2 separate regions of the Homo sapiens genome follow, and region 1 is linked to region 2. Evidence: fine-mapped expression QTL. A gene starts in region 2. The other region holds a variant in brackets. All regions are shown on one strand. Distances are between the middles of the regions.

Region 1 (15,503 bases), 250 kb before region 2:
GTTGTTTGTATAGGTCCAATAAGAATCTATCTGTTTGTAACAGGACACAATGGAAAACATTGGTTACATTACCAAAGCTTTGGAATGTAATTTTTAGAATGTCATAGAATCAGATATGACTACACAGTTTTAAGAAACTAAGGATGACTTTGTGGGGCGAATAAGGCCCCTTAAAAAACCCCCAGCCTGGTACCTTGCTCACAGAGTTCCTAGCCTTATAGTTGAGTAAAGAAGGTAACTTTCATGCAGGCCCAGGAGCCTTAAAAATATTTTGGAGACCTCGAGAACAGAGGAACTCACCCAAATCTAGAGGTGTTACAGGCAAAATCTAATGACAAGCTCTTGGCTTGGCTTCCTAGACTTGAGAGGCTTTTAGATTCCTTATTAGCAGTTCCAGCAAAGCAGACTTAAAAAGAGCCTATACGATCAATCACTATTCTTGCTGCATTATATAAATAATCAAGACAAGTTTAATGTGACTAGACTTATTTTGTAAAAAAATTAGTCTTACTGTGATTATGTTTGGTAAAAGTGGGAGTGACTGTGGAGAGAAAAATTATATTAACAAAAACTATAGTGTACCCGTTATTGGATTCTAGTACTGTTCATTGTCTTTGAAGTTTTGTTATCTATATGTAGAATGGATTAGATATTAAACTCTAATTTCCTCCCATATCCGGCAACAAATCTTCAGGCTAATGCTTCATGTTTTTCTCCTACTCTCTTGACTTGACATCACTGAAAACTGAAGCTGCCCTTTTCCTGAAATTTTGCAAGCTGAAACTGGATGACTTGATATAAACTTCAGAGAACTCACTACCACAACTAATATATAAGCAACCTTTGTGCCTGTTGCTGTGTAGGCCACTCAGAAAGTCCACTGGAACACCCAATGACCTCACCAGAGACATTCAAACTGCAAATCAGGAAATTGATCAGAATTACCACTGCTTATCTTCACTCTCTATCTAAAGATGCTTTGAGCCCAACCTATAGTACCCTTTACCAACTGATTGCCCTCTGGACTCAAAAGCTGGGCTTATAACTTGCCCTAAACATTAACCTTTATTTTTCTTTTGTTTCCATAGAAATGCCTCTTATTGGGCTGGGCGCGGTGGCTCACGCCTGTAATCCCAGCACTTTGGGAGGCCGAGGCGGGCGGATCACGAGGTCAGGAGATCGAGACCATCCTCGCTAACACAGTGAAACCCCGTCTCTACTAAAAAACACAAAAAAATTAGCCTGGCGTGGTGGCGGGCGCCTGTAGTCCCAGCTACGCGGGAGGCTGAGGCAGGAGAATGGCGTGAACCCGGGAGGCGGAGCTTGCAGTGAGCCGAGATCGCGCCACTGCACTCCAGCCTGGGCGACAGAGCGAGACTCCATCTCAAAAAAAAAAAAAAAAAAAAAAAAAAAAAAAAAAAAAAAAAAGAAATGCCTCTTATTGTTTACATTATGAAGTCTCAACTTGGATGGAAGCCCAACTGCAACACGGCCTCCTAAAATGAGACGCAACTGTTCAACTGAACTGTTCTCAGGACTAAAAGGCTGTGTCAATAAGATACGGGGAATATTTGTTCTTCTGTGTGTTCCGATCCTTGTTTTTCTTTCCCTTCGTTGATCTCTTGTTTCACAACTTCCAACCCAAATCTGCTCACAGCTACTAACTTGGCTTTTAACATATGAAACTTTCTAAAAGTAAAGTTTCAAATGGGGAATGAAGAGGCTCAGAATACACTACCCCAAAACATGTCACTCAGAACACATCATCCCCAAATATGCCACTTTGGCATCAGAATTATTTTAAACTAAAGGCACATAAAAACAGGAGATGCAAGAAGATCACTCTGACCTTCACTGTTCTTTAAAAGCCAGAGATGAAATTCCCATGTGAAAGGTGTTCTCCCTAAACCAAGAAGAAAGTAACATTCTCATCACAAAGGATAGGAAGTTGAGGCTGATAGGAATCTATACAAGCATCCCTTATGTTCCTAATTACTTATTTACCCAGTTATTTACCCTAGCATAAGCCCCTTTGCCTTGTTACATTTTCACAATTCAGGGCATAAATGTTTGACTCTAGCTGCTGCTTTGTGTCTTCATTTCCTTATGAATGCTCTCCTGCCATTAAAAAACTTGCATTAAATAATTTATATACTTTTCTCCTGTTGATTTGTCTTATGTCTATTTAATTCTCCAGGCCCAGGCAACAAACAAACAAACAAGAAAACAAAACAAAAACAAAAAACCCCCAACAACAACAACAACAAAACCATAAAAGAGGAGGGGCAAATTTTTGCCTCCTCTTCTGCATTTTTCACATGCTTTATCCTGTTTTCACTTCTTTACTTTCTGGCACTATAAGGTGTTCCAGGCTCATCTTATATTTATTTTCCCTATCCTAGCCCTGGAATCAGCCACTTCTACACTTCTTGAAGGAGTCCTGGTTCCTTTCATCAGGGAACGGCATTTCGAAATCAAGATCTGAGTGCTGGCTGTGCTCATTGCTACTGGTGTCACTGCTCATAGTCTCCTCTCTCTCAGTGGGCAGAGCTAGGTAATTCATGTATGTATAACTGACCCATATATGCACACATATTATATTTTTGTATCTACTAAAAATAAATCAACCATGAGTTCATACTGATATTTCTAACTCCAGTCCAGCACCAGGATTTATTCTAGCATTATCTCTGCTTATTTGTAACTTCTTTCTGACAATGAGAAAAGTGGATCCCATAGCTTACACTATATTTAATTATTTTTGAGCCCAAGTATACCATAGGTTTAGGGTTGTTTGTGAAAAACGAATTTACCAATGAGAGTTTGTTGCTTCTGTACTGTTCTTCTTGTCTTTGGCCTGACACTCTCCAGTCAAAACATTGCTTTACAAAGGCACTTAGGTCAGCTCGTTTCTTCCCTCCTAACTTCCGTATGGTTATGTTTTTTTATTTGTAATACGGTTAGATTCATTTTAGCAGTCCGCTTTTCATCTTGGATTTCCCCAAGATCTCAGTTGATTTTTTAAAAATTTGTATACAGCAAAGTTTACCCTTTGTGGTGTATAGGTTTATGGGATTGAGAAAGGCATAGAGTCACGTGTACAACAAGACAGTTTAACTCAGAACAATTGGACTGCCCAAAAGTTTCCTAATGAGGCCCTTTAGTGGGGCATCATTTCATAGGACTCCCCCAACTCCAGGCAACCACGGATTTGTTTTCTATTTTTATAATTTTGCTTTTTCCAGAATGCCATATAAATAGAATCATTCAGTATGTAACATTTTGGATTTTCTCTCATTTAGCAAAAAGAATTTCAGATTCATTCATGTGTTGTGGGTTGATACTTTTTATTGCTGAATGGTATCCCATTGTCTGGATATACACAGACTTACTTACCCTTTCATCTGTGAAAGACAGCTGAACTATTTCTAGCTTTGGTAATGAATAAAGCTGCTATAAACATTCAGGGCCAGGCACAGTGGCTCACGCTTATAATCCCAGTACTTTGGGAGGCTGAGGCAAGAGGATCAACTGATGTCAGGGGTTCAAGACCAGCCTGGCAAACATGGCAAAATCCTTTCTCCACTAAACATACAAAAATTCACCTGGCGTGGTGGTGCATGCCTGTAATCCCAGCTACTCGGGAGGCTGAGGCAGGAGAATCACTTGAACCCAGGAGGCGGAGGTTGCAGTGAGCTGAAATAGCATCACTGCACTCCAGCCTGTGAGACTCCATCTCAAAAAAAAAAAAAAAAATCAGGTACAGGTTTTTCTGTCAGCATAAGGTTTCAGTTAACTTAGGTCAATACCTTGGAGTGGGATTGTTGGGTCACATGGTAAGTGCATGTTTAACTTTATAAGAAATTGCAAAACTATTTTCCATTTATAAGAAACTGCTATACTGCCATTCCCCAATGAAAGGAACCAGGACTCCTTAAAGAAGTGTACTTTTGGTGCAAAAGTAATCAGAGTTTTTGCCATTGAAGGTGATGGCATGAGTCAGGATTTCCTTATTTTAAAAGGCTGAATAATATTCCATTGTATGAATATATCATGTTTGTTTATTCATTCATGTGTCAATGGACACTTGGGTTGCTCCCACCTTTTGGCTATTGTGAATAACGCAGCTATGGACACAGTGTACAAATATGTGTTCAAGTCTCTGCTTTCACTTCTTTTGGGTGTATACCCAGAAGTGGAATTGCTGGATCACAGGTAATTATGTTTAATTTTTTTGAGGAATCATCATATCGTTTCCACAGCAGCTGCACCATTTTACACTCCCACCAGCAATGCACAAGAGCTCCAATTTCTCTCACATCCTTGCTGACACTTGCTATTTTTTTTTATTTTTTTGTGTGTGCATGTGTGTTGATAATACCAACCTAATGGGTGTGAAGTGATATTTCATTGTGGTTTTGATTTGCATTTTGTTAATAGCTAGTGATATTGAATATCTTTCATGTGCTTATTGGTCATTTGAATATCTTCTTTGGAGAGAAGTTTATCTTGATAAACCATTTTTTGAGGTTTATTAATTTTTTTAACTTTTATTTTAGATACAGGAGGTACATGTGCAGGTTCGTTACATGGGTATATTGCATGATGCTGAGATTTAGGGTATGGATCCCATCACCTTGGTAGTGAGGATAGTACCCATTAATTTTGTTAACCTTTTCAAGGATCCAGTTTTGAGATTCTATTATTTTTCTCTACTATTTTTTTCTGTTTTTAATTTCATAACTTTGTTCTTATCTTTTCTCCCCTTTCTGCTTGCTTTGGGTTTACGTTACTCTTCTTTCTCTAGTTTATTAAGGTGAATGCAGCAATTAATTTTTTGAGGTTTTTCTTCTTTTCTGGTATAAGCATTTAATGTTATAATTTTTCCTTTAAGCTCTCCTTTAGCTTTCTTCCATAAATTTTGATTTGCTGGCATTTTATATCAACTTATTTAAACATATTTTTAAAATTTGCCTTGAAGTTCTCCTTGAAGAGGTCCTTCACATCCCTTGTAAGTTGGATTCCTAGGTATTTTATTCTCTTTGAAGCAATTGTGAATGGAAGTTCACTCATGATTTGGCTCACTGTTTGTCTGTTATTGGTGTATAAGAATGCTTGTGATTTTTGCACATTGATTTTGTATCCTGAGACTTTGCTGAAGTTGCTTATCAGCTTAAAGAGATTTTGGGCTGAGACGATGGGGTTTTCTAAATGTACAATCATGTCATCTGCAAACAGGGACAATTTGACTTCCTCTTTTCCTAATTGAATACCCTTTATTTCTTTCTCCTGCCTGATTGCCCTGGCCAGAACTTCCAACACTATGTTGAATAAGAGTGGTGAGAGAGGGAGAGAGGGCATCCCTATCTTGTGCCAGTTTTCAAAGGGAATGCTTCCAGTTTTTGCCCATTCAGTATGATATTGGCTGTGGGTTTGTCATAAATAGCTCTTATTATTTTGAGATACATCTCATCAATACCAAATTTATTGAGAGTTTTTAGCATGAAGGTGTTGAATTTTGTCAAAGGCCTTTTCTGCATCTATTGAGACAATCATGTGGTTTTTGTCTTTGGTTCTGTTTATATGGTGGATTATGTTTATTGATTTGAGTATGTTGAACCAGCCTTGCATTCCAGGGATGAAGCCCACTGGATCATGGTGGATAAGCTCTTTGATGTGCTGCTGGATTCAGTTTGCCAGTTTTACTGAGGATTTTTGCATCGATGTTCATCAGGGATATTGGTCTAAAATTCTCTTTTTTTGTTGTGTCTCTGCCAGGCTTTGGTACTCAATGAAATAAAAGAGGGCACAAACAAATGCTCATGGATAGGAAGAATCAGTATCATGAAAGTGGCCATACTGCCCAAGGTAATTTATAGATTCAATGCCATCTCCATCAAGCTACCAATGACTTTCTTCACAGAATTGGAAAAAACTACTTTAAAGTTCATATGGAACCGAAAAAGAGGCCGCATTGCCAAGTCAATCCTAAGCCAAAAGAACAAAGCTGGAGGCACCACGCTACCTGACTTCAAACTATACTACAAGGCTACAGTAACCAAAACAGCATGGTACTTGTACAAAGCAGAGATATAGACCAATGGAACAGAACAGAGTCCTCACAAATAATATCACATCTACAACCATCTGATCTTTGACAAACCTGACAAAAACAAGCAATGGGGAAAGGATTCCCTATTTAATAAATGGTGCTGGGAAAACTGGCTAGCCATATGTAGAAAGCTGAAACTGGATCCCTTCCTTACACCTTATACAAAAATTAATTCAAGATGGATTAAAGACTTACATGTTAGACCTAAAACCATAAAAACCCTAGAAGAAAACCTAGGCAATACCATTCAGTACATAGGCATGGGCAAGGATTTCATGTCTAAAACACCAAAAGCAATGGCAACAGAAGCCAAAATTGACAAATGGGGTCTAATTAAACTAAAGAGCTTCTGCACAGCAAAAGAAACTACCATCAGAGTGAACAGGCAACCTATAGAATGGGAGAAAATTTTTGCAATCTACTCATCTGACAAAGGGCTAATATCCAGAATCTACAAAGAACTCAAACAAATTTACAAGAAAAAAACAAACAACCCCATCAAAAAGTGGGTGAAGGATATGAACAGACACTTCTCAAAAGAAGACATTTATGCAGCTGACAGACACATAAAAAAATGCTCATCATCACTGGTCATCAGAGAAATGCATATCAAAACCACAATGAGATACCATCTCACACCAGTTAGAAAGGCGATCATTAAAAAGTCAGGAAACAACAGGTGCTGGAGAGGATGTGGAGAAATAGGAACACTTTTACACTGTTGGTGGGACTGTAAACTAGTTCAACCATTGTGGAAGACAGTGTGGTGATTCCTCAGGGATCTAGAACTAGAAATACCATTTGACCCAGTCATCCCATTACTGGTTATATACCCAAAGGATTATAAAGCATGCTACTATAAAGACACATGCACACGTATGTTTATCGCGGCACTATTCACAACAGCAAACACTTGGAACCAACCGGAATGTTCATCTATGATAGACTGGATTAAGAAAATGTGGCACATATACACCATGGAATACTATGCAGCCATAAAAAAGGATGCGTTCATGTCCTTTGCAGGGACATGGATGATGCTGGAAACCATCATTCTCAGCAAACTATCGCAAAGACAAAAAACCAAACACTGCATGTTCTCACTCATAGGTGGGAATTGAACAATGAGAACAGTTGGACACAGGAAGGGGAACATCACACACCAGGGCCTGTTGTGGGGTGGGAGGAGGGGAGAGGGATAGCATTAGGAGATATACCTAATGTAAATGACGAGTTAATGGGTGTAGCACACCAACATGGCACATGTATACATATATAACAAACCTGCACGTTGTGCACACGTACCCTAGAACTTAAAGTATAATAAAATGAAATTTGCCTTGAGGTTTCTTGTACCCAAGGGTTATTTTCAAGTATGTGTTTAATTTTCAAATCTTTGGACAATTTCTAGATTCTTTCTGTTATTTATTTTGAATTTAATTCCATTTTGGTGTAAAAATATACTTTATGTAATTTCTATTGTTTTAGATTTGTTAAGGTTTGTTTCATGGCTCAGAATATGGTCTATTTTGGTGAATGCTCCATGTGCATTTGAGAAGAATGTGTGTTCTGTTGTTGATCGAAGTATGCTATAGGTCAAGTGTCAATAGGTCAATAGTGTCATTAGGTCAATAGTGTCAATAGGTCAAATTGGTTGATAGTGGTCAAGTCATCTACATACTTAATGATCTTCTAGCTACTTGTTCTATCCATTACTGAGAGAGATGTGTTAAAATCTCCAACTGTAATGTAGATATTCATCTATATCAGCTTTTGGTTCTTTCAATTTTTCTTTAAGAGTTTTGAAGCTCTTTTGTTAAGTTCATATACATTTAGGATTGTTATGTTACTTTGGTAAATTGGCATTTTTATCATTATGTAGTATTTCTTTTTACCTTTGATAATACTCTTTGTTCTGAAGTTTTAAAAAATTTTTATTTATTTTTATTTTTTATTTTTTTAAAATTTCACCTTTTTCTTCATCATTCAACTTGATAAAGCTTCTTTTTTTTTT[A/TA]ACATGAATATAGCTATTCCAGCTTTCTTTTGGATATTGTTTGATGGTATACATTTTTAATATTCTTTTATTTGTAACATATTTATGTCTTTGTTTTTAAAGTGACTTTTTCTTAAGGCAGCATATACATAGGTCTTGTTTTTAAATCATATCTGGAAATTTCTGTCTTTTAATTGGTATATTTTGATCATTCACATTTCGTGTTATTATATAACTGAATTAAAATCTACCATTTTCTTAGCTATTTTTTATTTAATCCATCTGTCCTTTATTTTTTCCTGCCTTCTCTTGAGGTAATTGAGCATTTACTGGAATTATGATTCTATTTCATCTCCTCTATTGACTTATTATTTGTTCACCCTTTAAAAAAAGTTTAGTCCTTGGTACAGGAGTTATATGTTTTTAATTAATTAGAGTGTATCATTAAATAACATTGTATATATTCACAGATAGTTTAAGGCCTCAAATTATCATAGTCCCACTTCTCTGCTATTACATATATTATACATATTATATACAATTATTAGCCTATAGATCTCTATATTATTAGATATTAATATCTGTATTCTATCATCTATCTATCTATCTATGAATCTATCTATCTATCTATCTATCTATCTATCTATCTATCTATCTATCTATCTATCCATCCATCCTGGGAATTAACTGAGAGATACAGATAAGCCAAAGCAGGCTTAAAACAAAACAAGGGCCGGGTGCGGTGGATCATGTCTGTAATCCCAGCACTTTGGGAGGCCAAGGCGGGCAGATCACGAGGTCAGGAGATCAAGATCATCCTGGCCAACATGGTGAAACCCCGTCTCCACTAAAAATACAAAAATTAGCTGGGTGTGGTGGCGCCTACCTACTCGGGAGGCTGAGGCAGGAGAATTGCTTGAACCTGGGAGGCAGAGGTTGCAGTGAGCCAAGATAGTGCCACTGCACTCCAGCCTGGTGACAGAGCGAGACTCCGTCTCAAAAACAAAACAACAAACAAACAAACAAAAAACAAAAAGTAGCTAGATAAAGAAAATATTGTTAGGTGAATCATGAAAAATAAAAGCATTTATTACGAACCATAAAAGTCGTACAGAGTAGCAGTATAAAAGATGATCTACATCTTGGGTTAATATAAGGCTTTTGTTATATAAGACTCACTTCACACCTTCATATTATTCATATAATTTTAATCTAATGACAACTTAGTTATCTTGGCTGTCTCTCCAATGTGTTGTATAATAAGTTCTTATAGGGTAAGGAGTTTACCGTGTGCAAGTGACCCTTGTTCTTCCCTCCTACCCCTCTCCTCCCTGTTTTCCTCTTCCCCTCTTTCCCACTCTCTCCTCTTCTCATCCCTTCTCAACTCCTCTCTCCCTATCCCACCTTCTTTTACTCACTCTTTCCTCATCTTATCTTCTTTAATCTCCCCCTTTTTAAAATTAATAGGTTTTGTTTTAAAAAGCAGTTTGAGGTTTACAGAAAAATGGGAATGATAAATACTGAGAGTTCCCCTATACTCCTCACCGTCTGCCCTAGCAATTCCCCCTATTAGTAACATCTTGCATTAGTGTGATACATTTGTTGTAATTGATGGGCCAATATTGATAAATTATTATTAATTAAAGTTCATAGTTTACATTAAGATTCAGCCTTGGTGTTGTATATTCTATGGACTTTGATGAATGTGTAGTGACATGTATCTACCATTATAGTATCACACAGAATAGTTTCACTACCCTAACAATTCCCTATATTCCACCTATCCATCTCTCCCTCCATCACCTGGAACCGCCAGCAACCACTGATTGGTTTACTGTCTCCATCATTTTGCCTTTTACAGAATACCATTTAGTTGGAATCATACAGTATATAGCCTTTTCAGATTGGCTTAGTTCACTTAGCAATATGCATGTAAGTTTTCTTTATGCTTTCTCATGACTTGTTAGCCCAGTTACTTTTTGAATGAATAAGATTCCATGGTCTAGATGTGCTACACTTTATTTATCCATCCACCTATTGAAAGATATCTTGGTTGTTTCTAAGTTTTGACAATTATGAATAAAGCTGCTATAAACCTTTGTGTGCAGATTTTTGTGTGGACATAAGTAATATATTTTTAAATAATGGGACAAAAAAGGAGAGCTTTCTAAGAATGACAGCGCCATAAAGAAAACATTTGTTCAAATTTCCAGACAGCAAAAAACTCACCATAGCAAACTTAAGAGACAAACAGCAGGGGGTGGTATTTGCAAGATATGTGACCACAGTTGACAGTTCTATTTTACTTAGCACACTGTGAACTTAAAGGAGATAAGATTCTCAAACTCTTTGACTATTTTATTTTATTACCTGCATGTCTGTGGTAGGAGAGAGACATATCAGTGATTCCCTTTAGATTTGTCCAAAAAATCTTATAAGAATTTAGTCCTGTTAGGAATTACCAGATTTCTATTTACATCTCACTGTTAGGAAAACACATTTTGAAATGAAACCACCATAATTCTACAGACTTTTAGAGAGGGAAAGTTATAACTGTTATTATATGAAAAGTGAACATTACAATATTAATATGAGAGAATATTTTGGAAGTCAAATCTGGCTTTCATTGCAAAGTGCGAACTGTATATGTTATCTGCGTTAGAACCGCCCTCCTCTCCAAACTAAATCAAAGAATCAGGAGTCACCTGTATCTCACTCTCTGGCTTATAATTTCTTTAAAAACTGAATCCATCTAAATGCAAATGTGCAAGTAACTGATCAAGCTCTGCCTCATTCACCTGAGAAAGTCCCCAGAGAGGAGCTCTGCCCACTCCCCCTGCACCCACCACCACAACACAGAGGCTCCCAGCATGACCGGGGCCACCCTCTTCCCTTCTCCCGAGCCCCTTGTTAACTTGTCAAGGGCTTGTCACTTTGGCTAAATCACATCATGAATGGGGTCAGATGTCTTCCTGGTCCCTGCGGAAATGAAATCCTCCTGGGTGGGGAAATCTCCTAAGCCTTGCCTCCCCCTCAGGTCAGAGCACAGGTAACCTGAGGGCAGGGCATTTGGCAGAAGTAAGAGGGAGCCATAAAATGTTTCAAGAAAGATGCCTGCTCCTTGTGCAGTGGAACCTGGAGAGTGCCCTTGGGTTCAGTCCTCACTGCCATCTAGAATTCAATATAGGAAACTCTCTTGGCCAGGCTCATGCCTATAATCCCAGCACTTTGGGAGGCTGAAGCAGGTGTATCACTTGAGCTCAGGAGTTCAAGACTAGCCTGGGCAACATAGGGAGACCCCATTTCTCAAAAAAAAAAACAACAAAAATAAGAAACTCTCTTTATGGCGCACTGCAGATGGTGGCTGGGAGATGTGTATATGTCCAGCCTGGGCCAGTAACAGGCAGCTGTTGGCCTTCCCTGGGATGCAGCCATATTCAGATGTTTAGTGGCTTTTCCGGGTCTCAGTGCTCCTGCTAATTCTGGTAAAAAGTTTGTTTTGCACAAAAGCATCACAGAGGTGTGGTGGGAAAAAGGAAGCAGAGCTGTTTTACAAACAGCTTCTTACCCTGGCTGTCTCTCAGGGCCTTGAGTCACCCTCTGAGGGCGGCTTTGTACGGAAACCCACACACATTGTTATTTTCCTGTCCCCAGGGATATGGTCCCTCTCTCTCTCTCTCTCTCTCTCTCTAGCAGACCAAATTTGTGGCCAGGTTCATCATGTCTCATTGCTCTTGTGTTTTTATAAAGAGCCTATAAGACAGTGAGAGAGACTGCCTAGGAGAGGGAGGGTTGCTCCTAGGCCATCTGTAGACCTTGCAAGAAATTCCAGGACCTGGCAGATAACAAGGCTTGTTTTGTTTTCTTTCATTTTCTCTTCTCTCCCCCACCCCGACCCCCCAGTTCTACCAGTAACAGTCTGTGCCAGCGTGGACAAGACACTTGATCTTTCTAAACCTCAGTTTCTTTATTCCTGAATTAGGAGAAAAAATCATATACCCTAAAGTCCCAGATATGTGCTAACTGAAAATATGACTGATATTATATTTTTAAGAACCTAAAGTCTGGAATAGAATGAGCTCAGATGGTACCCCTATGGTGATACTGATGAGCTCATTTCTTGTGTTTGTGCAAGAGCATTTTCATATATGCACATAGTGGCTGCTGCACCCTCTATGTGGGTACACATATGGCTTCCCCACAAATTGCAGGGCAAGGAAAGATCACCTGAACATCCTTCCCCCACCCTGGTCTTCCACAGAAGGTAGGGGATAGTCTTTGAAGGACAGGCTGAAAATTCATCTTTTGATTTCAATCTCATTTTATTCCCATTGCCTTTTGTTGTTGACTATACCACTCCACTTGATGGAAGTAGTTTCCATCTTAAAGAGGGGAGAAAGATTTCAGGAATAGGACTCAAGATGATCTGCAGTTATATATATATATATATATATATATATATTATATATATATGTATATATAATATATATAAATATATAATATATAAATATATATATAACTGTATGTATATATATACAGTTACGTTTATGTATATATTTTTCAAAGCAGTTTTAGAGTTACAGAAAAATGGGAATGAAAAATACTGAGAGTTCCCCTATACTCCTCACCTTTTGCCCCAATAATTTTCCCTGTTAGTAAATTCTTGGCTTAGTGTGGTTTATATATATATATAGAAGTAGTTAAAACTCCACTGTCCACAAGAATGAAGTCATAGATGGCAAGGGCTTTATTACTAGGCAGTTACCCTGACTCATAACCCTCTAACTGGCAGATCCTCACAACTGCACGTTATGTTTTTCTAATCAGCATGCCATTTATCTTTTGGAAACTCCAGTGAGGGAAGTAGAGAGAATATTATTGCTACTTTTGGCAAATGAGAGTAAGATAATCTGTCCAAGGTCAACCACTAGTTTCAGAGCATTTCACAGTTTTTCCAGTGGGGGTCTCCACCTTCCCCTTCTCCACCATGTCCCTCATAGTGGAGGGAACCATTCTTTACTCTCATTAGCTTAGAGATGATGCTCTCCCAGTTTGAGGCATGAGCTGCTCCCCTTCCTTCCTTCCTTCCTTCCTTCCTTCCTTCCTTCCTTCCTTCCTTCCTTCCTTCCTTCCTTTCCTTCCCTCCTTCCTTCCTTCCTTCCTTTCTTTTTCTTTCTTTCTTTTTGAGACAGGGTCTCACTCTGTCACCCAGGCTGGAGTGCAGTGACACAATCATGACTCACTGCAACTTTGGCCTCCTGGGTTCAAGTGATCCTCCTACATCAGCCTCCTTAGTCGCTGAGACTATAGGCATGAACCACTGTGCCAGGCTAATTTTTTTTTTTTTTTTTGGTAGAGATGGGGTTTTACCATGTGGCCAGGGCTGGTCTTGAACTCCTGGGCTCAGGTGATCCTCCAGTCTCGGCCTCCCTCCTAAAGTGCTGGGATTACAGGCATTAGCCACTGTGCCTGGACAGGTTAAACTGGTCCAACCATATTCCATGTGTGAGACATTTAATACCATTTTAAAATGAATTAATGGAAGGATTGATGGATATAAGATGAGTGAGGTGAGTTGATGGCCAGCCCAGAATAGGCTTTTTTTTTTTTTTTTTGGAGGGGAGCGATGATAGTGCTGTCCAGAGGGCTGGTGTGGCACTTGGGTGGGGTTCTCTGTAGTGGTGGTTTGGGCTAGAGGGATAGCACTGTGACTGGAGAGGAAAAACTCCTCAATAAAATAATTGAGGCAAATGAGAACAATCCTGATGTTTCTGAGAAGCACCCTTTTCACTTCTCTTTCTGTTCAGGCTGGATTCCGAGACAGTAGCAATTTCAGGTTCTCCTTCTCGGAGGAAATGGCCCGCCACCAATCTCTTGGCCAAACACAGCACGTGAATAGCTTTGCTGCATGTTTTCCCGGAGGGCTGATCCCTCTCAGCACACAGGGGCAGCCACAGATTCAGGCCCTACAGGCACTCAGTTTGCCCTGAAACACCTGAAAAAGCTGCCTTCTCCCTTTAATATCCTTTCACCCCCTCAATCTCGGGTGCAGACTTGGCCTCATGTCACTGCTGCTTTAGGAAACCCTGGAAATCTTAGTTCCCTGGTAGTTAAAAGGGGTAGATGGTATTACAAGACCGCCAAGTTTGCCAGGTCCCTGGCCTCCCCCAGTGTAGGAATATCCGCTTCCAAGTCCACCTACCCCTCTGCAGCTCTTTCAGCATCGCCTTATCTTCTCCTCACACACCTTTCCAGGCACCTACCAGTGCCACCTGTTTTCCTCTGATGCTCAGGAGCCCCTCCTTACCGGCTCCTGTGGAGACCACCGTTCAAGACAATCCAGGGGCAGCACATGAGAAAACAGAGAGTCTTGAGTTCTAAACCATCAGCATTGCAGCAAGATGGAGTGAAAAAATGGTTGGTTTTCCCATTTGCCTTCCCCCTCATGCAATCACATCTTTAAAAAATGTCCACCCCAATATCATTCTTGAAAAGAAAAGAATCATCCTTGGAAAGATGAGTTTTTTTTTTTTTTTTTTTTTGAGACAGAGTCTCACTGTGTCACCCAGGCTGGAGTGCAGTGGTGCAATCTCGGCTCACTGCAAACTCCGCCTCCTGGGTTCAAGCGATTCTCCCACCTCAGCCTCCTGAGTAGCTGGGATTACAGGCATGCGCCACCATACCTGGGTAATTTTTGTATTTTTAGTAGAGAAAGGGTTTCACCATGTTGGCCAGGCTGGTCTCGATCTCCTGTCTTCAGGTGATCCACCCACCTCGGCCTCCCAAAATGCTGGGATTACAGGCATGAGCCACTGCGCCTGGCCAAAAAGATGAGATTTATGTTCAGGTTTGCTCTTTCTCTGAGTATCAGTAGCAATAATCAGTTTTGACTATTGGCCAGGTTTCTCCAGGGAAACAGAATATATCTATTAAGAGATATATATCTATTAAGAGATTTATATCTAGAAATTGGCTCATGTGATTTCGGGGTCTGGTATGTCCAAAATCTGTAGTACAGGTGGGCAGGCTGGACACTCAGCCAGGAGTAGACACTGCAGTCTTGAGGTGGAATTCCTTTTCTGGGAAATCGGTTATTGTCTTAAGACTTTCAACTGCCTGGATGATTTCCCTCTATGTTCTGGAAGGTAATTGTTACTTCACATTAACCACATCTGCAAAATACCCTCACAGCAACACCTGGATTAGTGTTTGGTTAGATCATTGGGTACTATGGCCTTGCTAAGTGACACATAAGAATGACCATCACACTCAGTTTGAAGGGCCCTCTCACGGATTGCAGGATGACAGAAAGTGCTTTGGTTTCTATCCAAAACATCAGCACTTGCTTGGGTGTAAAAGCAAGGCTTGAGTTGTGTCACCAGAGCTGTGGGTGGATAA
Region 2 (15,503 bases):
CTAAATAAATTATTAGACACTAATAAATAATAGACTGTGATTAAGTGTGATTTATTTCAGAAATACTATGGTGGGTCAATATGAGAATGTTGATTGTTACAACACATCCCGTTAATAGGTTAAGAAGAAAATTAGCTAGATGCAGGAAAGATATTTGGCCAAATTTAACACTGATTCATGTTTACGGTAGTTTGTAGAACAGAAAAAATATCTATTTCTTTAACATGATTTTATACAAATATAATTTTTTCAATTTTGTCATCTTTTTTTCTGGAACTAAAATAGTTGATTATAAAGTTCATTCAGATGAAGGAAAATGCAAGTTAGCCTAGACAATCAAGGAAAAGAAGAACAGGGGAAGACTAGCTCTACCAGACAATTAAATATTATAATCTCTATAATTAAAGCAGTGTGATATTGGTGAGTGAATAGAGACAGGCCATGAAACAGAAACAGAGAATTCACAAATAGGCCATTGCTCATTTTATGTTCATTTATATTCCATTCAATTACATTAACTTACATTCTGTGAAGCAACACCTCATACCAATGGGAAAGATGATGGACACTTTTATTAGCAACACTGAAATAACTATACCACCATATAATTGGATGCAATTTTAAAGATAAAATTGCCTCCAATTCCTCATATCATACAAATTCCAAATAGATCAGAAATTTGAATGCAAAAACTATCCCATATAAATAATAAGAGAAACACGGGTAAATTTTTTGTAACCTGGGAGTGGGGAGGATGTTAATAACTAAGATTTAAAATAGTATAAGGAAAAGACTGATAAGTTTGATTACACAAAAATCCAAAAAATTATGTAAGGCATACAACACCATAGGCAAATTAAAACACAAATATCAAACTAGGAAAACATTTTTTCCGATTTATCTCAAAGAGGGCTACTTTTCCTACTGTATGAAGAATAGCTAAAAGTAAAGAAACAAAAGACCAATGACTTGATAGAAAATCGGGCAAGATATGAACCCACGGCCAAAGAAAAAAATATATAAATTATCCTTGAATACATAAAAAGATATCCAAGTTCATTCACAATAGAGAAAAATAATTAAAAACATAGAAAAAATAAAAAATTCTCAGAGATCACTATTTCTCTACTATAGGTATGGCAAAAATCCATTTCCCAGCATAATCTGGTGGTAAAGGTATGGGGAAAACAGATAATTTCTTGCATGACTAGTGTGAAGGGGAAAACAACCTAACACCTATAGAGGAGAAGGTGGCAATACCTTGAAAAATTACACATGCATTTACTCTTTGATTATCAATCCCGATTTTAGGATTTATCCCAGAGCTGCACTGACAAAAATACAGAAAGGAATGATGCCCATCAGTGGGGACCAGTTGAATAAACTAAGGAATATTCATACAGAAAAGTACAATCCAACTGCAAAAAGGAATGAGAAATATATCTATATACCAGTATGAAGAGATCTCTGTGATATACTGCTAAGTGAAAAAAAGCCAAGTGAAGAAAATAATGTATAGTTTACTATCATTTATATAAGAAGAAGGAATATTAGTTTTATATATATAAATAATTTTTATGTGCATGTGAAAAAGCAATGGCAGAACCATTTGAAAACTAAACAAAAGAATTATTTATATGAAGATGAGAGAAACAAGGTACAAGGGACAGGAACAGAAAATGGTCATTAGACTTCTTTGAATATCCTTTGTTTTTGCAAATTTGATCTTGAGAACATTTAAATAGTTTACATAATTATACAATAAAAATTATATTTTAAAACACCAGTAAAAGTTAAAAGAAACGGAACAAATAAACCTAACTGTATCTTGTGTCAAGGATGAACCACACAAAGATTTGTCCTGAAAGGCTTGAAAATGTAGTATTAATAATTTCACTGTGTGTGTGTGTGTATGTGTGTGTGTGTGTACTGTTTTGAAGTCCATCTAAAAGGCATAAACCATGGTCAGCCAAGTAGCAGTGAGTGCACTTAATGCCCAGATTGTGATCTTCAAATGGTATTTCCCACAAAAGAAATTAGGACTACTAGGAAAAAGTACTGATTCCAGGTCTGGGCCAGTAAACATACAAGTTTAGCCTACAACATCTTTCATACTAGAAAGTAGGGATGCTATAAAAAATTACTTAGTTTTATCAGAAGGGCTTGGAAGCTACCTTAAAGAGGTTCCAACTGGACAAAGATGGAATAATTTGAGCATCATTAATAAAGATTATTCCAATGGATTAAAATATACCAAATATATTGAAATCCAGTAGTTGATAACAACACCATCTTCCTGAAAGAAGTTAATTGCTCCCTTTGGAGTATGCTAAGAAAGTGACTCATCATTCTGAACATTGACAACTAAAGGGAAAGAAGCATTTATTTTGTCTTTCATACATCTCATCTTTTAACTATATCTCACAAAAATGAAAGAATCACTGAATGAAAGTTCCTTTGTGTATGACTATTCCATCTAATAAATAAATAAAGAATGATAGAATATCATCTTTTGGTAACTTTTAATGAAACAAATTCATTCTAGACAATCATTAACATCTGCTAACATCACAAAAAGAGAGGCATTCAAACATATGTGCCTTCTAATAGAAGTTTAGGATAGCATCTATGAAGTATTCCCACTAAAAAAACAAAGTCAAACTTTAATCTGATCCAACCTCCCCATTCATATAAATTCACACAAAACACTGGAGCTAGAAGCGAATGTTAAATGACATTGTTAGGATGCAATCAGCAGTATGAATACTGCCCAGTTCTGTTGGACAAAAGACCTTCCCTTCCTTAAACAAAGAAATTTAACACAAAGAAACAAGGAAGGTGAAAACCTACACATTAAGTGAAACATAAGAGATGTCAAACAATTGTAATGTATGAATTTTACTTAGATCCTACCTCAAACAATTTTAAAAATTATGAGATCTTCAGGGAAATCTGAATACAACTGGTAGTATTAAAATTTATAGTTGCCTTTTGAAGGCTGTTTATGAAATTGTGGAAATGTTTTTAAATGGTCTTTATCTTTCAGAGACACATACTCAAATATTTACTGATAAAATGATGTAATGTCTGACATTTGCTTCAAAATAATCTGTGATAGAGTTGAGAATAGGAGCAGATATTTGAACAAGACTGGCATAAATTGATAACTGTGAGATTTTAATATAGGTACATGGAAGTTCCTTATATTGTTTTTACCTTTGAATAAGTATAAATTTTTCACAAATAAAAAAATTAACCCATGTATAGTGTAACCACTATCGAGCAGAGACTGCATATCAGAACACCCTGATAAAACATGTTTTGTATATCTCGTTTATTCTTCAAAAATACTCTACAGTGAAACTAATTTTATTATTCTAATTTTTTAAATGAGGAAGCTGGTGTGGCTCAAAAATTCTGGGAAACATGCCCCTGGTCACTGTGCTAAGAGGTATTGGGCAGAGAAGACATTCGATTCAAAGTCTGTCTGAATCTACCATGCTCACTCTTAACCGTGCACTCTACTGCCTGTTCTTGGCTACTCTCAGGCCATGATTCTAAATTTTCATTGACATGGCACAGAGATAGACCAGTGGAGGGCAAAGGAGATGATCCACGCTTTCTGCAAAAAGGTGAGCTGGGAGCCAGCCTGTTATAAGGGAACCGTGAGGAGGGCTCCGCATTTCTCGTGGACTTTTCCATCTCTCTCATATTGAGAAGCCAAACGTGAGAGAGATGGTCAGAAATATCACTTTAAAACTTTCTCAAGTTTTAAAACTTTCTCAAGTGGTTCCTGGAAGATCCAGAGGACCTCCAGCTAAGAGAAAGGCTGAGAAATGACAAAAGCATTTACAACAGAGGTGAACAGTTCTAAACTGTGGCCAGACCCACCGGTTCTAGAAAATTTCGTAGCTCCTTGAGATCCAGTTCCCTCTGCTATAAAAAAGGAAAATAAAACCAATCTTGCAGGGTTGTCCTTAGGCTTTCATAGAGTGATTTCTATAAAGGTCTTTTATGGCAACTCTTTTTGTACTGAATGGCGCAGCAGCCCCACATGTTACACTGTTAGGGACACAGCTTGTCTCTGCTTAATGCTGGAAAAAGTCAGCAGACTGAATTCTAGTGTTCCTCCGCCATGAGTGATCTGGGTACCCCTTGGAGAATCATCAAAATCTCTGGGATTGGGATTCTGATTCTTTTTCTGTAAGAAGAGGGACTTAGACAGGTGGACTCTAAATTGCCTGTCACCTTTACAAATCTGTCTTAGGAGCCCTTAATTTCTTATGAAGGTTATCAGGCAACACTCTGTGTCTATCACAACAGCCAGTGAGTGGAGGGTGCACTATGCAGCCATGTGTGTCCTGTTACATATGAGATGCATGGGCTCCATGCAAACAAATCTCCTCACTCCCCTTCTACTCACCCCTCCCACAGCACCTTCTATGCAGTGCTGCTTAGCACAGTGCCTTGTCCCTCCTAAGGGCAGAGTCCACTCCAGCCACACACCCTGTCCCCACTGCCCTTCGCAGCCCAATAGCACCAGACCCTCTTCTCAGCCAGGCTCACCTTCTCTTGAACAAGTTGAATTTTCAGGTTTTCTCCAAGGAGGCTGCTTGAGCTGTTGCTTTTGCTTTTACTGTGAGTTAAAAGTGTCTGTACCGCCACCAAAACCTCTCAGTCAGGAAGCTCAGGCTGGGTGGAGCCACACACACAAAAATGTTTGTCTTTAAAGAAACAGAAATACGGCTCCATAATCTGGTGATTGCTTCAGTTTTGCCCGGTTGAAACGTTTTGCCCATGGGCCTGCTATAAACACCATTTCCAAAGCTACATTTTTCGCTTCAGGTTATAGTGATGGATGCAAAAGAGCCTTATTAAATGACCCAAATATTGCCTAGAAAACAAGGCACAGGACCTGATTGTCTTCCCAGGGTGGAGTGGGAGGCTGAGGGGTGATTTGGGGAAGAAGAGAGACAGGCATATACCTTGCCATTTCCAAGCGTAGAGCTGGGGGTTCTTAGTGATTGTATAATATGGGTTTTTTATTATAGTCTTTCAGGAAGGCCTCAAGTTACTCATTCAAAAGTTAACAGCACTGAGGCTCAAAGGCAGAGTCTAAATCATTAGGAACCAAGGGAAAAAAAGGAAGGTGACGCCTGGAAAAATAATCTGCCCATGAACACATAGTTTCTCTAGTTGCTTTTCGTATAATTCTTCCAAGTTTGAAAATATGCATGACCTAACAAGTAAAGATGCACCCAAGGAATAGATCCTACATCCCTTCCCCACCTTCCTCTCTACCCCACATCTTCCTACCCCAGTCTCAGGCAGAGACAGATTTTCCAGAATTTACCCAGTGGATGGTTCCAATCTGCTCTGGAGGTTTCTTGAGGTGAGAGGCAGGTTCCCAAAGCTCTCACGGTTGACCAGATATTCCAGTTGGCTACGTAAGAATACTATGTTTAGAGTTCCAAGCCCACAGCCCCTGTCGCGGCCTTGCCACCCTCCAGCGCCCCACGCCAGGAGTGGGCCTAGAGCGCTCGCCTTGCCCCTCTGTGATCCGGGCTCCGGCACCCGCCCAGGTCCGCACCACTGGCAGCCTGTAGGGAGTCGCTGGCCGTCGTCGCCGCTAAGTAGGATATATCTGCATCTTCAAAGGAAGATAAAACAAAAGCCTTCTTTGGAATATTTGGATTTTTGTCACTTTCTGTGAGCTTTAGTTCAAGAACACAAGTTGAATCACTCAAACATGAAAAACAAGTCTGAAACCAGTATCCATCAATACTTGGTCGAAGAGCCAACCCTTTCCTGGTCGCCTCCATCCACTAGAGCCAGTGAAGTAGTATGTTCCGCCAACGTTTCTCACTACGAGCTCCAAGTAGAAATAGGAAGAGGATTTGACAAGTTGACTTCTGTCCATCTAGCACGGCATACTCCTACGGGAACGCTGGTAACTACAAAAATTACAAATCTGGAAAACGGCAATAAAGAACGCCTGAAAGTTTTACAGAAAGCCATGATTCTATCCCACTTTTTCCGGCATCCCAATATTACAACTTATTGGACAGTTTTCACTGTTGGCAGCTGGCTTTGGGTTATTTCTCCATTTATGGCCTATGGTTCAGCAAGACAACTCTTGAGGACCTATTTTCCTGAAGGAATGAGTAAAACTTTAATAAGAAACATTCTCTTTGGAGCAGTGAGAGGATTGAACTATCTCTACCAATATGGCTGTATTCACAGGAGAATTAAAGCCAGCCATATCCTCATTTCTGGTGATGGCCTAGTGACCCTCTCTGGCCTGTCCCATCTGCATAGTTTGGTTAAGCATGGACAGAGGCATAGGGCTGTGTATGATTTCCCACAGTTCAGCACATTAGTGCAGCCATGGCTGAGTCCAGAACTACTGAGACAGGATTTACATGGGTATAATGTGAAGTCAGATATTTACAGTGTTGGGATTACAACATGTGAATTAGCCAGTGGGCAGGTGCCTTTCCAGGACGTGCATAGAACTCAGATGCTGTTAACAGAAACTGAAAGGTCCCCCTTATAGCCCATTGGATATCAGTATTTTCCCTCAATCAGAATCCAAAATGAAAAATTCCCGGTCAGGTGTAGACTCTGGGATTGGAGCAAGTGTGCTTGTCTCCAGTGGAACTCACACAGTAAATAGTGACCGATTACACACACCATCCTCAAAAACCTTCTCTCCTGCCTTCTTTAGCTGGGTACAGCTGTGTTTGCAACAAGATCCGGAGAAAAGGCCATCAGCAAGCAGTTTATTGTCCCATGTTTTCTTCAAACAGATGAAAGAAGAAAGCCAGGATTCGGTACTTTCACTGTTGCCTCCTGCTTATAACAAGCCATCAATATCACTGCCTCCGGTGTTACCTTGGACTGAGCCAGAATGTGGTTTTCCTGATGAAAAAGATTCATATTGGGAATTCTAGCTAGGGCTGGCAAATCATCTTATGTCCTATATACTTGACACTTTCTCCTTGCTGCTTTTTCTTCTGTATTGCTAGGTACAAATACCAGAATTATACTTGAAAATACAGTTGGTGCACTGGAGAATCTATTCAAATCACTCTGTTCAAAGGGGCATCAGTTTGTAGTCCCTTTGGTTCACACAGAGTGCTATGACAACTCCAAGGAAACATCAGAACTACTAACCTAGCTAGTTAGTGTTATTTATTCAGGAAATTTTTCTAAGCTGTGGCTAACTGTCTTGATCTCTCAATATAATTTTTGAGCCAGTTAATTTTTTCAATATTTTGCTGTCCTCTTGGGAATGGTCCTTCAAAGGATAGTGCTTCTAAGTACATCTTCTTCTCCCAGATTGTCTGGCCTTTTTAATGAGCTATTGTTAAACCAACAGGCTAGTTTATCTTGCATCAGACCCTTTTATGGTAGAGGGAAAATGTCTTTACTTTCCCTTTTTCTTCTGTTAATACTTATGGTAACATCTAACTCAGCCTCACTCACATTAAGTGATTCGCTTGAAATGTATTAAAAAAGAATACTGTGTTTAAAAATAAAAATAAAAAAAGAACATTATGTTTTTGATTTTGTGTGTATGTGTATGTGTGTGTGTGCACAAAACTCGGGGCTTTTCTTCTGCCGCCATGATGCTAAATCAATGCAAAGCTTAACTTATTAAGATAGTGCACAAATAATAACAGGAGATGAAAGGTATAGTACTGTCCTAGCTCTTACACAGATTATGTAACCTTGGAGTATCAGCTTCCTATTGCTATCATGACAAATTACCAAAAATGTAGTGGCCTAAAACAACATAAAATTTTCCTCTTACAGTTCTGGAAGTCAGAAGTCCAAAATGAGTGTTATGGGGATAAAATCAGGCTAATTAGCAGGGTACCTTCTAGAGGCTCCACGAGAGAATCTGTTCCTGGCCTCTTCCAGCATCTCTATGCTACTAGTGTTCTTTGGCTTGTGGCCACGTCGCACCAATCTCTCCTGCCATCTTCACATTGTCTTCCTTCTTTGACTTTCTTGTTTCCCCCTTAGAAAGATCTTTGTGTTTACATTTAAACCCACCTAGATAATCCAGGATAATCTCCTCACTGTGAAAGCCTTAATTTAATCACATCTGCAAAGACTGCTCTGCTATATAAAGCAACAGTCACTTGTTCCTCCCAATATCAAGTCTGTATTAGTTTCCGGGGCTGCTGTAACAAATTACCACAAACTGGGTAGCTTAAAACAAGAAAAAATTATCATCTCACAGTTCTTGAGGCCACAAGGTGTCAACAGGGCCACACTCTCTCTGAAGACTCTAGGGGAGGATCCTTCCTTGCCTCTTTCTGGCTTCTAGTGGTTTCTGGCAATCCTTGCTACTCTTTGACTTGTAGATGCATCCTTCCAATCTCTGCCTCCAGAGTTACACGGTTTTCTCCCCTGTGTGCTTATTCAAATTTCACTCATTTTCTAAGGAAAAAAGTCATTGGATTAGAAGAGCTTGCCCCACAGCCTCATCTTAATTTGATTACATCACAAAGACTATTCCCAAATAAGGTCACATTCTCAAGTCCTAGGGGTTAGATCTTGAACATTTCTTTTAGTGGATACAATTCTAAATTGTGATAGAAAATTGGTGGTTAAATAAGAAAGGACAGTGTATGCATTTTGAGAGTGAAACACCCTAGATCTCTTCCTTTGCAGTCCCAGTTGCAATGAATTGGTGAAGCCCATGCGGACAGTCCATGTCATGGTAGTTGGGAAGTTCTTACTGCATAAGGTTTAGCATCCTTATTGCTTAGCCTGGAATTCAGCTATTGTTACAGTGTTTCAATCTTTCTTTCTGGGCCAAATCTTCCTCTATTCCTCTCCTTGAGAGGCAACTTAATGTTTCAGTGCAGCTCTGCTTACCTAAAATTCCAATCACAGTTCCTGTTAATACCTATTTTACATAGCTGAAGGAGACAGAGGTATAAAGGCAGTTTCTGAAATAGCACAGGTGCTCAGCAAATGCTTTTAATGATCCTGTCTTAGTCTGTGTGGACTGCTATAACAAAATACTGTAGAATGAGTAATTTATAAGCAACAGAAATTTGTTTCTCACAGTTCTGGAGGCTGAGAAATCCAAGATCAAAGTATTGACAGGTTTGTTATCTGGTGATGGTGTGTTTCCTGATTCATAGATGGTGCCTTCTTGCTGTGTCCCCACATGGTGGAAGGGGCGGGGAGCCTCTCTCTAACCTGTTATAAGGGCACTAACTCCATTCACGAGGGCTCCACCATGATGACCTAAGTACCTCCCAAAGGCCCTACCTCTTAATACCATCACTTCAGGATTAGGTTTCAATACATGAATTTGGAAGAGGATACACAAACATTCAGACCCCAGCAGATCCCTCCTCAAGTCATTTAATCTTCTCTGTGTCTCATAGTCCCACTACTGAGGCTTTGCTTGTGGTATTTCTCTGTGTTTCCTGTTAAAGTAAAATTAGGAAAAAAAAAAAAAAAGCAAGGTCATGACTTTCATGCAAATTTAAAATACATGCATGTAAAAGATTTTACTTAACTTATTGATTAACGAGAAAACCAGTAAGACATTATAATTAGTTCAAAGGACATTTGAGAATCTTGGGTAATTTGTAGGGGGATAAGATTTCCCTTGTGCCCATTTAATGACTGTTCCTAAGATAGTCATTGTATTAGCCCGTTCTTGCACTCCTATAAAGAAATTCCTGCAACTGGGTAATTTATAAAGAAATGAGGTGTAATTGGCTCACAGTTCCACAGGCTGTGCAGGAAGCATGATGGCTTCTTGGGAGACCTCAGGAAACTTTCAATATGTTGGAAGGAAAAGGGGAAGCATGCACATCTTACAAGGCTGGAGCAGGAGCAAGAGTGGAAGGCGGCAGTGCTACACACTTTTAAACAACCAGATCTCATGAGAACTTACCCACTATCGCAAGAACAGCATCAAGGGATGGTGCCAAACTGTTCCTGAAGGACCACCCCCATGACCCAATCACCTCCTACCAGGCCCCACCTCCAATATTGGGGATTACAATCTGGCATGAGATTTGGGCGGGGACACAGACCTAAACCATATCAGCCATAAAATGTAATTTTGGGGTATACGTTCTGCCAGACAAAAAAATTATTTACTTGTCTATAAGCAAAATTGCAAGTTACCTCTCAACAGAGTTGAGTATCTTAGACAGTAGTCAAGCCTCGCATCACACAGAAAGAATACCCAATAATGCCTTTTGCTTATTTCCACATGTTGGATCATTTTAATGTCATTTTCTACCTTGTGATCATACATAATCTCCAACAATTATTCTTGATCCCTCAATGCCATTATTATGTACAGCTTGGTTATTTACATATATACAGCAAGAGTTTTAATTAGCCAGATAGGCCTTCCTAAGCTTGCTCAGGAAATCCAGAGCCTAACAGCATTAAATAACTACCAATGCCAAAGAATGAACTTCTATTTGGAAATTTTCAAAATGAATCTTGAAAAGTTCTATTATTTGTTTTTCTATCACAAATGTAGAAAACCAAGACAAAGACACTTTTTCCAATAGATTTTTCATGCAGTTCTTATAAATGTAGGTGAATTTTCCTTTTTTGTGAGGTCTCCAAAATTTGCAGAGGTTCCCAGCGTGACAGGTAGTGGACTGACTTACTGCCTGTGAGACGAGGAGCCTAGATGACAGCTACCATGTTAATTTTCTTGGGAGGGTTTTGAAGGGTTTTGGAGGCATTAGCCTCACATAGAATGTTAATCACTATTCCTCAGTAGTGGCCTTATTGTACCTGATTAAGTGAAAACCACTCTCAGACATCACACTCTAGATATGGCCCTAGTGCCGGTGTCCCTGGGTGCCTTCATCACCCATCATCTATCCGACGGTCCAGATAGAAGACAAACTGGGTCAGGCCCAATGTCTGTACCCACATTGATCCCTGCCTGAAGGAAGGTATGTTTTGTAGCAAAGGCTTATGATTTTGCCTTTTTTGAAGACTTAGGAGGGAAGTGTTTTCAGATACACAGGCAGAGGAGGAGCTGCTGAACCATGAATCAACAGCATCTGAGAACTTTCATATCTGCTAATAAGGCACAGTCCTTTCTTGGAATTGGAGGCTGAGGCTGTCTGCAGTGCATAGGTAACATGAGGTAAGTGCTTTCCAAGCCCGCCAACTCTGTCTCTCCCTTTAGGGCCTTCAGTTCTATTTATGTATCTGGACACCTATGATGTGAAATTGTATAATACGTGAGCTTAAGGAGACCAAACCACGATCCTGGGACTGACATCAAGAGTATTACCATTACCATTACTATTGCTGACACCACTGCTACTAGCTGACACTTGCTGATCACTTACTGTATGCTGAGTACCCTTCTCACCCCTTTATAGATACTACAGGCACACCTCAGAGATATTGCAAGTTCAATGCCAGCAACTGCAATAAAGCAAATGTAACTATAAAAAGAGCCACATGAATTTTTTGGTTTCTCAGGGCATATAAAAGTTATGTTTATACTACACCGTAATCTATTACATGTGCAATAGCATTATGTCTAGAAAACAATATATGCGCTTTAATTTAAAAATACTTTATTGCTAAAAGATGCTAACAATCCTCCGAGCCTTCAGTGAGTCATAATCTTTCTGCTGGTGGAGGGTCTTGCCTCAGTATTGATAGCTGCTGATTGATCAAGATGGTGATTGCTGAAGGCTGGGGTGGCTGTAGCAATTTCCTAAACTAAGATAACAATGAGGTTTGTCACATAGAATGACTCTTCCTCTCACAAAATGTTTCTCTGTAGCATGTGTGATGCTGTTTGATCGCATTTTAAGCATAGTAGAACTTGTTTCAAAATTGAAGTCAATCTTCTCAAACCCTGCTGCTGTTTATCAAGTTTATTTAATATTCTAAATCCTTTGTTGTCATTTCATAATGTTCACAGCATCTTCGCCAAAAGTAGTTTTTTTTTTTTTGAGATGAAGAAGGAGATTTTATTTATTTTTTATTTCAATAGGTTTTGGGGGGTTGGGTAGTGTTTGGTTACAGGGATAGGTTCTGTAGTGGTGATTTCTGAGATTTTGGTGCCATCACCTGAGCAGTGTACACTGTGCCCAGTGTGTAGGCTTTTATTCTTCACCTCCCTCCCACCCTTTCCCCAAGTCCCCAAAGTCCATTGTATCATTCTTATGCCTTTTCATTCTCATAGTGTCATTTCCATCTCAAGAAATCAGTTTCTTTTCTCATCCATAAGAAGCAGCTCCTCATCCATTCAAGTTTTATCATGAGATTGCAGCAATTCAGTCACATCTTCAGCCTACATTCTTCTTTTGTTGTTGTTAGAGACAGGGTCTCACTCTGTCACCCAGGCTTGAGTACAGTAGTGTGATCATAGCTCACTGCAGCCTTGAGCTCCTGGGCTCAAGTGATGCTCACACCTCAGCCTCCCAAGCAGCTGGGACTACAGGCACACACCACCATGTCTTACTAATTATTTTTTTTTTTGTTGAGACAGGATCTCACTGTGTTGCCCAGTGTGGTCTCAAACTCCTAGTTTCAAGTGATCCTCCTGCCTTGGCCTCCCAAAGTGCTAGGATTACAGGCATGAACCAACACACCTGGCCTCCACTTCTAATTCTACTTCTCTTGCTACCTCCACCACATCTGTAGTGATTCCCTCCAATGAAGTCTCGAACCCCTCCAAGTCATCTATGAGGGTTGGAATCAACTTCTTCCAAACTGTTGTTAACATTAATATTTTTATCTCCTCTCATGAATCATGAATGTTGTTAATGGTATCTAGAATGGTGAATCCTTCCCAGAAAGTTTTCAATTTACTTTGCCCAGGTTTATCAGAAGAATCACTATTTATGGCAACTATAGCCTTATAAAATATATTTCTTAAATAATAAGGCTCAAAAGTCAAAATTATCCTTGATCCATGAGCTGCAGAAGGGATGTTGTATTAGCAGGCATGAAATCTCCTTGTATATCTCCATAAGAGATCTTGGGTGACCAAATGCTTTGTCAATGAGCAGTAATATTTTGAATCTTTTTTTCTAAACAGAAGTATCAACAGTGGGCTTAAAATATTCAGTAAGCGGTGGGGGGGTCAGCCCCCCGCCCGGCCCGCCGCCCCGTCCGGGAGGGAGGTGGGGGGGTCAGCCCCCCGCCCGGCCAGCCGCCCCGTCCGGGAGGTGAGGGGCACCTCTGCCCGGCCACCCCTACTGGGAAGTGAGGAGCCCTTCTGCCCGGCCACCACCCCGTCTGGGGTGTACCCAACAGCTCATTGAGAACAGGCCATGATAACAATGGCGGTTTTGTGGAATAGAAAAGGGGGAAAGGTGGGGAAAAGATTGAGAAATCGGATGGTTGCTGTGTCTGTGTAGAAAGAGGTAGACATGGGAGACTTTTCATTTTGTTCTGTACTAAGAAAAATTCTTCTGCCTTGGGATCCTGTTGATCTATGACCTTACCCCCAACCCTGTGCTCTCTGAAACATGTGCTGTGTCCACTCAGGGTTAAATGGATTAAGGGCGGTGCCAGATGTGGTTTGTTAAACAGATGCTTGAAGGCAGCAGGCTCCTTAAGAGTCATCACCACTCCCTAATCTCAAGTACCCAGGGACACAAACACTGCGGAAGGCCGCAGGGTCCTCTGCTTAGGAAAACCAGAGACCTTTGTTCACTTGTTTATCTGCTGACCTTCCCTCCACTATTGTCCTATGACCCTGCCAAATCCCCCTCTGCGAGAAACACCCAAGAATGATCAATAAAAAAAGAAAAAAAAAAAAAAAATTCAGTAAGCCGTGCTATAAACAGATATGCTGTCATCAGGCTTTGTTGTTCCATTTATAGAGCACAGGAAGAATAGATTGAACATAATTCTTAAAAGCTCTAAGGTTTTTTGGAATGGTAAGTGAGCATTGACTTCAACTTAAAGTCATCAGCTGCATCAGCCCCTAATGAGAGAGTCAGCCTGCCCTTTGAAGCCTTGGAGCCAGGCATTGACTTCTCCACTCAAGCAATGAAAGTCCTGGATGTATAATCTTCCTACAAAAGTCTGCTTTGTCTCCATTGAAAATCTGTTGTTTATTGTAGCCACCTTCATCAGTGATCTAAATTAGATCCCCTGGATAACTTGCTGCAGCTTCTCCATCAGCACTTGCTGCTTCGCCTTCCACTTTTATGTAATGGGGACAGGTCATTTCCTTAAACCTCATGAACCAACATCTGCTAGCTTCAAACTTATTTCCTGCAGCTTCCTCACCTCTGTCAGACTTTATAAAATTGTGGGGTCCTTGCTCTGAATTAGACTGTGGCTTAAGGGAATGTTGCGGCTGGCTTAATCTTCTATCCAGACCAATAAAACTTTCTTCATATCAGCAGTAAGGCTGTTTAGCTTTCTTATCATTCATATATTCACTGGAGTAGCACTTTTAATTTCCTTCAATTACTTTTCCTTTGCATTCAAACTTGGCTAATTGTTTGGTGCAAGAGGTCTAGCTTTTGGCCTGTCTCAGCTTTTCACATACCTGCCCCACTAAGCTTCATCATTTCTAGCTTTTGGTTGAAGGTGAGAAATGTGCAACTCTGCCTTGCATTTGAACACTTAGAGGCCACTGTAATGTTATTAACTGACTTGATTTCAATATTGTTGTGTCAGGGAATAGGGAAGCCTGAGGCAAGGGTGAGAGACAAGGGAACAGCTGCATGGTGGAGCAGTCAGAACACACAATGATCAACTAGTTCATCATCTTGTAAGGCGCAGATTGTGGCACCCCAAAACAATTACAATAGGGACATCATAGATCACTGATCCCAAATCATCAGGACAGATAATAGTGAAAACGTTTGAAATACTGTGAGAATTGTCAAAAAGTGACACAGACACAAAAAAGTGAACACTTGCTGTTGGGAAAATGGCACCAACAGACTTGTTTGATGCAGGGTTGCCACAAATCTTCAATTTGTAAAAAGCGCATCATCCACAAAGTGCAATGAAATGAGGTACAATAAAGTGAAGTGCACCTGTACATCCTTCCTCATTCCTCATCCCACACATCTGGCCCAGATGGAACATGAAAGTCTCACTGATGAGAGAAGCAGCTGTGGCTTTCTCCGAAGGTCATTTTAGACACTACCTGAGACTGTTCCTCGGGGACTTTTCATTTGCCAGGTCTCTCTGACTCTGCAGGTGCCTTCAACCCACTCCCTTTTACTTTACCCTTTCCAAACTCAGATCCTTTTGCAGAAGTATTTAACTTTTGTCATCAATTTATATACACCAAGACCAAAAAAAGTGTTACCTTTAAAGACAGACATAGGAAATTAAGGTGTGCAAACAGACCTTTGAATCCTATGAGGAGCAGGCAGACAATTGAAACAGGAAGAGCTGAGCAGGTTATAAGGCCACCTCTGCCTAAAAGCATGTCCCAGTCTCACCAGCAGGAGCCAATTGCCTACTCTTACAGAATTCCCAATTTATATCAAAAC

Direction of the effects. Alleles are on the strand shown, and positions count from the first base shown. SD is a standard deviation of normalised expression in the study named.
In carriers of allele A in region 1, the expression in monocytes after interferon gamma of the gene that starts at base 4,640 in region 2 tends to be lower than with TA alone (moderate effect, 0.46 SD a copy in Fairfax 2014).

Evidence for each region.
Region 1: its variant is fine-mapped to the expression of GIMAP7 in monocytes after interferon gamma (Fairfax 2014, PIP 0.95).

The regions. Positions count from the first base shown.
Region 1 is chr7:150,751,903-150,767,405 of GRCh38, reverse strand. It overlaps LOC105375566 (a long non-coding RNA gene), which reads left to right. Exons shown (of 4, transcript XR_928163.2): 3 at 1,430-2,554; 4 at 5,779-5,819. Among named protein-coding and RNA genes, the nearest start is that of GIMAP5, 22 kb to the right of the region's middle. RefSeq lists silencers at 11,663-11,722, 11,763-11,812. The variant A/TA (reference allele first, on the strand shown) is at 8,127.
Region 2 is chr7:150,504,009-150,519,511 of GRCh38, reverse strand. GIMAP7 (GTPase, IMAP family member 7) reads right to left here and starts at 4,640. Exons shown (of 2, transcript NM_153236.4): 1 at 4,567-4,640. It also overlaps the pseudogene STRADBP1. RefSeq lists enhancers at 4,489-4,748, 4,759-4,918.